Linked DNA regions of Homo sapiens: region 1 is linked to region 2. The links come from fine-mapping of genetic effects on gene expression. A gene starts in region 2. The other region holds a variant in brackets. All regions are shown on one strand. Distances are from middle to middle. Region 1 has its middle 27 kb from the start of CRB2. Region 2 holds the start of STRBP (spermatid perinuclear RNA binding protein).

What was found. PIP is the estimated chance that this variant, and not a neighbour inherited with it, causes the effect.
Region 1: its variant is the best candidate, but not a certain one, in a credible set for the expression of STRBP in monocytes (Quach 2016, PIP 0.86).

The regions. Positions count from the first base shown.
Region 1 is chr9:123,326,253-123,331,619 of GRCh38, reverse strand. No RefSeq gene overlaps it. Among named protein-coding and RNA genes, the nearest start is that of CRB2, 27 kb to the left of the region's middle. RefSeq lists enhancers at 4,361-4,860, 4,861-5,362. The variant G/C (reference allele first, on the strand shown) is at 2,944.
Region 2 is chr9:123,265,248-123,270,614 of GRCh38, reverse strand. It overlaps STRBP (spermatid perinuclear RNA binding protein), which reads left to right and starts at 2,029. Exons shown (of 19, transcript NM_018387.5): 1 at 2,029-2,179. RefSeq lists silencers at 1,604-2,083, 2,254-2,303 and an enhancer at 1,703-2,203.

The DNA.
Region 1 (5,367 bases), 61 kb before region 2:
ATTTATTGGGTACTTCCTATGTGTCAGGCTTTGTCTCATGATTGCCTTACCCAAAGTTCTCCTAAAGTCATTGAGGTTCAGAGAGGGGAAGTCAGTTGCCCAGGGCCACACAGCTGGAGAGTGGCAGAGGCTGCAGCCCGTCTGACCTCTGAGCAGGGTTTCTCAGTCTTGGGTTATTGACATTTGGGGCTGGAGCATTCTTTGTGTTGGGAACTGTTGTGTGCAGTGCAGGGTGTTTTGTAGCATCCCTGGCCTCTATGTACCAGATGCCAGTAGCACCTCATCCCCACTTGTGACAACCAAACATGTCTCAAGATGTCGCCCAATGTCACCTGTGGGGCAGAATCACAGACCACAGTATACAGTCTGTGTTCACTTTGCTGCTCTCTTCCTCTGCTTTTAGGATATGGATTAAAACCCTTCTCTTAGGCCAGGCATGGTGGCTCACACCTGTAATCCCAACACTTTGGGAGGCTGAGGTGGGCAGATCACCTGACGTCCGGAGTCTGCCCAACATAGAGAAACCCCATCTCTACTAAAAATATTTTAAAAATTAGCTGGGCGTGGTGGCATGTGCCTGTAATCCTAGCTACTTAGGAGATTGAGACATGAGAATCACTTGAACCCAGGAGACAGAGATTGTGGTCTCTGCAACAGAGATTGCACCACTGCACTCCAGCCTTGGTGACAGAGTGAGACTCTGTCTCAAAAAAACAAACAAACAAACAAACAAAAACCCTTAGCCTTAGCCTAGAGAGGCAGATCTGGAGACAAAGCTGGCTGCGTGGGAATACCAACTTCTCTACTCACTGGCTGTGTGACCTTGGCCAAGTTGTCAACCTCCTTATGCCTCAGTTTCCCTCTCTGTAAAATGAGGGCCTACACAAAGGTTATCATGAAGTTTAGACTAGTCAATATACCCATGTAACAAACCTGCACATGTACCTACTGTATCTAAAATAAAAGCTGAAGTTATTTTTTTAACGTTAGTATTATATATCCAAAGCATTTAGAACAGTGCCTGGCACGTATGTGTGAACCCCCGTCGTGATCCCAGAGCCTACCTGACCAAGCCCCAGCCCATCTCTGCAGCAACCCTGGTACCTCTCTCCCCATGAGAATAAAAAGAGAAACTGTCCTAGAAGCTAGGGAAGAAGCATCTTTGACAACTTCTGCTGTTCCTACCTTCCCTGATGCACGCTGCTTCCCACCATTCCTGGAGGAGTTGGGAAAACAGCAATAAGGATGGCCTTTGGTCCCAAAGGTTCCCAAGGTAATGACAAAAGCTGCTACTTCCTGTCTCCCTGCAGCTCTCTCTGTGCATGAAGAGGAGGGTAGAGGCACTGCACACTGATTTAACAAACGCATCCGATTAGAACACGGTTCCTTTTATTATCCGGAAAGCTATAAAAATACATAGAAACGAACATATTTTATCACTGGAGTTGGTCTTCACATTTTATGGGTCTGTAGCGGGTGTTTTTGTTTTACCGACATTTGTTAGAAACAAGGTTCTGGAACGTTGTCCTTGTTTGGGTGCTCGTGAGAAATTGTATCCAGAAAGGCATTTCAGGACCTGTCCCTATGGAAACAGCCCCACTGCAGGAGTGTGCGTGACAGGGTGAGTGTGAGTGCGTGTGTGTGTGTGTGTGTGTGTGTGTGTGTGTGTGTGTGTGTGTAGCTAAAGTCCTCCTTTTTCCCAGGAGCAAGGGTGCCTAGGGATTACCTGGTCCAGCCTTCTCATATAGTTGAGGAAACTGAGGCCCAGACAGGGCAGTGCTTTATCCAGGATCACAGAACAACTCGGTTCAGCAACTATTTTCTGAGCGTATTAGTATCACCTTAGCTGCTCTAATAAACACCCCCACCCCAGTAACACAATAGACTTTTCTTGCTCACAGGACAGAGTTCCTGGTTGGTCAATGAGCCTTCCACTACGTGATTCAGGGACCCAGCCTCCCTCCTTATTGTGGTGACACCTTTTCCTAGAACTCAGAATCATCTGCTTTCGTCTGGATGAGGGAAGAATTTGGAGGATTACACATTGAAGGTTTTTATGGTCCAGGCCAGAAGTGGCCCATGTCACTTCCGTCCATGTCCCACTAGTCAAGGCTCAGTCACATGTCATGCCTAACCACAGGGAAGCCGGGAGGTGTCACCTGGCTCTGTGCCCAGGAGGAAGAGAAAGGCTGGTGAACAACTGTCCAGGTCTTGGTGCCTGGGCTGGAAGATGCATGAGCAGAGGAATGAGACAGCAGACCTGCCCTGCCAGAGCTCACAGTCCAGTGTTGTGAGATGGGGATGGGGGAGCAACAGCAAACACAGGTCACTTATGTCCCATGTCCCCAGCTTGAGGTTCAGAATAAGGACCATCTTTTTGCACCCTCGTCCCATTGATCACCAGAAGTCCATTTACTTCTCACAAGAGAGAAGTCCCATGCCAGGGTAAGTTCAAGACTCCCAGTGTCCTTCCTAAGTCAGTCCAAAAGAAGTCAGCAGTCCTGGTTTTTTTTTGTTTGTTTGTTTTCTTTCAGACAGAGTCTCGCACTGTCACCCAGGCTAGAGTGCAGTGGTGCAATCTCTGCTCACTGCAACCTCTGCCTCCTGGGTTCAAGCTATTCTCTTGCCTCAGCCTCCCGAGTAGCTGGGATTACAGGCACCCACCACCACGCCTGGCTAATTTTGTATTTTTAGTAGAGATGGGGTTTCACCAAGTTGGCCAGGCTGGTCTTGAACTCCTGACCTCCTGATCTGTCCACCTCAGCCTCCCAAAGTGTTGGGATTACAGGCATGAGCCACCACGCCCAGCCAGCAGTCCTGGTTTCTAAAAGATTGCAGAGAAGAAGCTGGAAGGTCTGGTTTATTTCCTGAAAGGTCCTATTCATCCTATTCTCTGTCTCAAGCCCAGCAGTATTTCCTTTTTGAGGGGAAAGTTAGGAGCCT[G/C]TATCCTGAGTTTCACGTCATTAGATAATGCCACAGGCCTGAAATCCCAACAAAACAGCACTTAAGAGGGGACATAGCTTAGTTCACGTACGCTTTTTTTTTTTTTTTTTTTTAAAGACATTCTCACTCTGTCCCCCAGGCTGGCTGGAGTGCAGTGGCACAATCTTGGCTCACTGCAACCTCCACCTCCCAGGTTCAAGCAATTCTCATGCCTCAGCACCCAAGTAGCTGGGATTACAAGCATGTACCACCACACCTAATTTTTGTATTTTTAGTAGAAATGGGATTTCACCATATTGCCCAGGCTGGTCTTGAACTCCTGGCTTGGATTATAGGCGTGAGCCATGACACATGGCCCGATGTACACATACACACATATTCTCTGTGTATACATACACACACACCTCAGAACCAGCCATCAGACATTCACCCCTTTGGTTGACCAGCATCTATTAGGAGAATCCCAAGATAGTGGAAGGACCCCCCCCCGCCTCTCCCCACAGAAGCTGCCTGGGACAGATCTTCTGTGCTTCCAGTGACTAGAATATGGACGTGCAGCCTAGAGTGTGGCCAGCTGGACATGCCCTCCCAGGACTCTGTAGAGTGACATTGAGGCACAGAGTCAGTCTGCCATTTAAAGGGTGCCGCCATAGAAGGACATCTCGTGCTGTGTGGGCGTCATCTCCATGGCTGGAGGTGTCAGATGGGGCCACAGTGACCAGCTGGCCGGCAGTCAGCTCCCAGGTGGCAGCTTGGCAGATCTTAACTCTCTGGGTTCTCGTCAAGCCTGTTTCTCTAGTTTCTCCGTCAATTGCATGAGCTACCCGATACTTTTACAAACCACTCCTTCAGGTTAGCTGGAGTCCGATACTTTTACAAACCACTCCTTCAGGTTAGCTGGAGTCTGTGCTTGCCACCAGCAGCCAAGCTCCCTGACTGGTGTCACCTTTGTCTTAGCAGTCAACCCACTCCCATTTCCCTTCACTACCAGCTTCCCCAGGGCCACCCCAGACCCAGACGGGTCCACCAACTTCCACCCTCAAGGGAAAGGCCACGGCTCCCACCACCTTCCTCCAGGAGATGTCTGAGCAAATCTCTAATTAACCTGTCTTTTCACACTCCTTCAATATTGAGTCCTCAAGGGGGCTGTGGACAGAACCAATGTAATTGGTTTACTCTGCGATGCTAGATATTTTATTTGATGCATTTGAAAATATGATCCTGAGAGGCTTGGTGTGGTGGCTCATGCCTATAATCCCAGCACTTTGGGAGGCCAAGGCAGGTGGATCACCTGAGGTCAGGAACTCAAGACCAGACTGGCCAACATGGCGAAACCCAGTCTCTACTAAAAACACAAAAATTAGCTGGGCATGGTGGTGCTTGCCTGTAATCCCAGCTACTCAGGAGGCTGAGGCAGGAGAATTGCTTGAACCTGGGAGGCAGAGATTGCAGTGAGCTAAGATCGTGCTACTGCACTCCAGCCTGGGCAGCAAGAGCAAAACTCTGTCTCAAAAACAAAACAAACAAACAAACAAAAAATCCTGAGAAAGGGTCCACAGGCTTCACTCGATGCCAAAGGGGTCGAGGGCACCAAAAAGGTAAGGATCGCTTGGGACTGCAGCCTCCCAAAGGCTCCACAACAAGCACCCCGCTGGCCTTGTGAGATCCCTACTGGTTTGAGGGCCAACCCACCCTCCCCACACCATTCCTTCTCAAAAGCACTTCCTCCTTTTTGAGACCAGCTCCTCTCCCCACCCTGTCTAGGCAGGTGGGCCCTGCAGTTGTCACGTGACCTCATGTTGCCATATGACCTCATGTTACAGGAGCTGGCACATGACCTCACCCTCCAGCCATAGCTACTGGCTCAGAAGGAGTGGGCTGCTGGCCCAAGCCAGGCCAACCAGGTCCTTCCCCGCAGTTGTTTTTGGTTTCATTTTAAACTGGAACTTGGGGGGAAACAGTTATACTCTCCCCGGTGAGGCCTTTGGAGCTGAGAGCTCTCTTGTTTTCCACAAAGTAGGGGAAGCCAAATGAGTAGCAGAAGGACGCTGATGCTGACAGGGAGAGGAGAGGTGGGGAGGAGAGAGGAGAGTGGGGAGGGGAGGGAGCTGGCTGCATTCGCAGTCCGTCCATCCGTCCGGGGTCTGGCCGTGGCCCTGCCCTCCTGGCAGTATGGTTATTTATTGCCTCCTTAATTTCCCCTCTTCTTGCCCCAGTTAGAGATGGAGTTTGCCACTGCCTGTCTTGTTCTGCTGAATCGCAGAGTCTGCACAGAGCCAGACACATAGTAGGTGTACAGCTAACATCTGTGAACAAGTGACTGTACAAACACAGGCATTGGAAAAAGTGTACAAGGTCCAGAGAAGAGAGGAATTAAGTCTCCATGGGGGGATGTCAGGAACTGCTGGGGTGGGAGGTGACATT
Region 2 (5,367 bases):
TATTGAAACAAGAAATACTATTGAATCCTTAATGCCATGCTGTTCTTCTATTTTAAAAAAATTAAAAATGTAACCAAGTGCTGGACACCGTGCTGAGTGCCTTAGATATACGGTTGCAATGAATCCTTCTAACAACCCTACAATATGCAATACTATTAGTCTCACTTGGCAGATGAGTAAACTTAGACTAGAGAGATTGATTTTCCAAGATCACACAGCTAGTGTGCAGTGAATCTGGATCTTTACAGTGTGGCGCCTCTTCTCCCTCTGATACTTATGGGCATCCTACAAAACCCAGCTTTAATGATCTCATGTCATGTGCACGTGTAGTCTTCCCTAACACACTTAGGCAGGAAGATGACCCTGTCCTCAAGGGACTGAGAGACCAGGGAGGAGACAGACAGCTAAACAATTACAATCTAGTGCCATGAGAATACATATAGCTTAACAGGACTATGTTCAAGCCGAGGGAGCTTAGACCATGTGTCTGAGGCAGCCAAGGATCTCCAGAGAATATACTCTGAGCTGATTGATAAGGATACCCAGGATTTTTTTCAGGAGGGTCAAGGAAGGTGTGAGTGGTCAGAGGTGGGGAGAGGGTTTAGAAAGGGATTTGCGGCCTGGCATCTGTCTCAGGAGACTCAGGCTCCTACACACCTGGGCATACTCTGGAAACAACAGTACTGTAGTTCTGTGTGGCTGGAGGGTCACATTGGCCTGAAGGAGGGGCAAAGGGAAGGGCGTGCACCTTGAAGCTTAAGGCCAGATCACCAAGGCCTTTTCAGTTGAAATTGGGTTTTTTACACTTTATTCTGTGAATGAAACAGAGCTGTTAAAATATTTGAGCCTGGTGTGTTAGAAAGATGAAAAGGGGCCCCAAGGGGGCTGTTGTGGGGAGTCCCTCCTCAACCCCTGGGCTGTTCAAGGTCCTCTGTCTTGGCACTGAGTGGTCAGGTCGTTTCTGCTCCAGGCTGGGAATTGTCTTAGGGCAAAGACATTGTCTCATTTGCCAGTGCATCCCTGCAGCCTGCAAACCCCCCGGTATACAGCAGGGACTGTATACTGGCAAGCAGAATGCTGGGCACCAAGAACTTGAGGCCAGGGACTGTAGAATAGAAAGCGAACCTTTAATTCTTCCCCAGCGCCGCCCCTGGCACAGAGCTGGTAGGTGTTCAGCCAAAGTCTGACCCAACCATAAGGAGGTCAGAGAGGTCCTGGGCCCAAACTCAATCCCAGCGAGGTTCATTATAGGCAGGTGAAGGAGAGGTGATTGTAGCAGCTTCTGTTCAGCGACTGCTGTGTGCCAGGATTCACACCTATTGTCTTATGCCATCTCCCCAACAGCTCCTAAATTGGAATTATTGTCCCAGTTTTCCTGATGAGGAAACTGAGGCTCAGAACGGTTCTTGGTAACTTGGCCAAGGTCACACAGCCAGCAAGTAGGTGGGCGGTGGCACAAGTCAAAGCCTACTGGCCTGCCCCTCTACCTCGGGAGGCAGTGCGACGCCTACTCCATTTGTGTGGCTGCTGGGGTTGGGGGGCATCCCGCACTGGGGTGCGGGGCCCGGGGAAGGCGGCTAGCCGCCGCGGCTCGGCGCAGCTCCCAGGTTCGGAAGTTACGAAGTTTCCGTGCATTTCGCTAGCCTCCCAGCGCAGCTCGTCTCCGCTCCGCCGCAGTTACGCCGCTAGCGCAGCGGGGCTCAGGTGCTGCAGCGAGCGGGGGCCTGGGGCCGGGAGGAAGGCGGGGACGCAGTTTACGTAAGCGTCCGCTGGCAGGTGCATAAGGCCGCCGGCGGCGAGTGCTCCCTGCGCGCTCCCAGGTGCGCACTTGGCGCAGGCGGCGGCACAGCAAGGCGGCGGCGGGCGCTGGCCGGCGCTCTCAGGTGCGGCAGGACGCGCGTGGAGGGGGCGCGCGGCGAACGAGGGGGCGGGCTTTCCGTTCCCCAGCAGCCGCGGGGCCCGCCCCCTGGCCTGGCCAATGGGCGCGCTCGACGGTGTCACGTGCTCGCTGCCGCCGCTGCCGCCGCCGAAGCGGAGACCGGAGCCGCGAGCGCCACCAGGGCAGCAGCCGCCGCAGCCGCCGCCGCTGGGCAGAGGAGCCGGAGACGCGAGCGGGCGAGGTGGCGGCGGCGGCGGAGCGGGAGCGGGTACCGGGCGCGGGCAGAGCGCGGCGGCGCGGGTAGGCTCCGGCGGCGGGGCGGGCGCCTGCGCGGCGGGCCGTCCCGGGCGGGCGGCGGTTAAGGCGGCGGTTGAGGCGGTTGGCGGAGCCGGCCCGGGCCCCGCATTGTTTGTTGTGCGTCCTTAGCAGCGGCGGCGGCGGTGGCGGCCGAGGCGGAGAGCAGGGAGCAATCCCGGCCCCGCGGCTCCGGCATTGTGGCCGCCGCCGCCGCCGCTGCGGTGCCCCGGCCGCTTCGGGCAAGGGCAGCGGGCAGCCTTCCTCACCTTCGCGGGGACGGGGTCCCGGCCGATCAGGGGAGGGCGTGGGCAGGGTTGGGGGACGCGGTGCCGGGAGGTCTTCCGGGACGGAGGGCTCGGGGCTCGGGGCAGGTGTTGGAGGACATTGGGGGCAGGAGCTGGGGAGAGGCTTCGGGGGGCAGGCGGAAGGTGTGGGCAGATTTGGGGGTAAATAGGGGTGCAGAGGGATCCGGCCCAATGGAGGAGGAGAGCCTTCAGGCAGGTTTGGGGGGCCCCCTGGGCCAGGCGAGTGCGAGATGGAGGACATTCCGTCCGGTGGGGGGGGGCACTATATTGTGGGGTTCAAGAGGGAATGAGGGGGCTTTTGGGGAGGGCAGGGACGAGTGGGGTGGGAATGGAGGGAGAAGACTGGGGACTCGAGCAGGACTGGAAGGAGCGCTGCGTGCCAGGGGCAGGGAGTGGGGCGGGTATTAGGAAGGCCACCGGGACGCCCGTGAAGGGGAACGATGGAGGAGGGGGTCGGGGCAGGGGGAAGTGAGGGCAGGCAGGGAGCGCCTGAAAGGGAGGGAGGGGAGCAGGGTGCCTAGGCTTCTGGGGTGATAGGGAAATGAAGGGTAGGCCCAGGGGCTCCAGGAGACCTGCGAGGGGTGTGAGGGAGTGTGTGGCCAGGTGTATAGGGGAGCCTGCAGGGAGGCGGGAGGGGGTTGACATGTAAGGATAAAAAGGCAGGTATCTGGTGCTCAGGGAAGAGGAGTATGGGGTGGAAGGGGGAAGTTCATTGGGGCAGAGACTTAGTTTGAGGGCTTGCAGAGAGAGGTGGGGACAGTAGGAGAAGGGTGATGGGGATGGAGAGCAGGAGGTGTGTGGGGCATTTAAAGGATAGCGGGAGAAGTGCGTGAAATGGAGGGTGTTTATGCAGGAAGTATGGAAGAAGGTGGGATCAGCAAGAGAGGGAATTTTGAGGTAGGACGGAGGGTGAGGGGTTCTTGGCAAGTGTTGGAGGACGTTAGGGGCAGGAGCTGGGGGAGAGGGACAGGTGTGGGGTGGCGTGGAGTGTGTGAGGTGGAGGGCAAAAGGGGGTGGGGAAAGGGAAGTGTTCTTGGAGTGGCAGGTAAAGTGTGGGGACAAATGGAAGGAAAGATTTCTGAGGCGGGAAGTGTGGAGCGGTTGGGGAGGAGGAAGGTGGAGGGGAGGGTGAGAACGAAATCAGTAGAGGGGGACAACGGGATAGACTGGAGGGGAAGGTGGACAGGTCTGGAGTACAGTAGGTGGAGGGAGGGAAGCACAGGTTTGGGGCACTGAATTTTGTGCTGTAGGGAGAAGGGAGGTAGGGAGAAAGAAGGAAGGTAGACAGGCTATTTTGGGGTAGAGGATGTAGAAGAATGCTTAATACCTATAGTGGAGTAAGGGAAGGGCAAGGCAGAGGTGTATGTGGACATGTCTGTAACTAGAAAGGCATAGGTGATGGATTGGAGTGGTGGTGGTGGTGGTGGGGGAAATAGGATGCCCAGGTTTAGGGCAGGAAATGACTGCTTAAGTTGGAGAGAGCTAGGAACACAGGTTGCTTAAGAGAGTATGGAAGATCCAAGGAGTGGAAGTATGGGGAGAGATTGGAACACTTTGAGTTTGAGAGATGAAAGGGGCCAAGATTTTTAGGTCACTGAGAGTCTAAGGAAGATCAGGCAGAGTGCAGAAGTTGGAAAAATAACTAAATGGAGAGGATTAAATTCCATACTGAGAGAAACTGGAGATTGAGGGGTGGGGGGACCTGGATCCTGGAATGATGTTAATGGAAAGTGGAGGACATTAAACTCAGTGTCATATCTGAAAGTTCATACTCCTAGGGTCAGAGAGATCGTTGAGCCTGCTTTTAATTCCAGAACCCAGTAAATGAGGAAGGGGGAAGGGGTAAGGGAGAGCTGAGTGCACATCCCCAAATTTGGGAGAGGTGTGTAGTGGGTATCATCCTAGCATATTGGTTTGACGAGTGGACAGAAGGGCCACACAGGGTCACGAGGAGCGCACCAAGAGTGAATGGAAATGGGATTGCAGCAGGTGCAGGGCAGATGTCTTTGTGAAACTGGAAGAGACCAGGCCCAGTGGCCAGTAGCATTCAAGGGCTATGCATAAGAGAGGAAGAAAGGGATACCTTGGTGCAGTGTCTCAGATACCCTGGTGCTTTCTGGGTAATGGGTCAGTATTCAGGCAGCATGGGGTGATGTAATATCTGAGTCCCATGCTATAGGCAGACAGAAGTAATGTACACCTAGCTCCTAAAAGTGGCAGAATTGGAGCTTTCTGACTCTTAACACTCTTTCAAGGCGTGAATAACTGATCTGGATTGTTGACTTTTTCTCCCAAATGGTTCAGGTAAAATTTAGTTGGAGGCTTTTGGATTCTCTGGTATTTTGATTTGAGTTGGGAAGTGTAATGTTAGCTTTATTGAGGAAAGACACTTATGGGTTGGGCGGACATATGGCCTTCAGCTTGCCAAACACATGGGAAGTAACCTTTAGGGGTTTGAACACAGACATTTATTTCAGTGCAAGTCTCATTCACTGTTCTGTGGCTTGTGTTAGATTCTTAGGGGTTTGAAAGGATTAAGCAAACTACTTTGAGACTGCTTCAGTAAGCAAGGTTTCCTAGAATCTTGGAAAACGATTTCCCTTTTGACAGTTGAAAATTAAGTCTTGTCAGATTTTGCTAAGAAATAAATTTCATCATGTTGCAGAAATAACTTCAATTATCACTCTGTGGGCTTCACGTAATGTGTAGTGTGGTACCTAGTATGATTTCAAATAAAAGGTTCGCTTTGGTAGCTTGGGAGCTTTCTGGGTTGATTAGTTTTCTTCTTTTGTCGATTTAGGAAGTATCTTAATGCAGCCATTGTATGTTCGAATAATAAGTTTGAGTGGAAGTGGGAATCTTGCCTAAACATAATGAGGGCGGAGC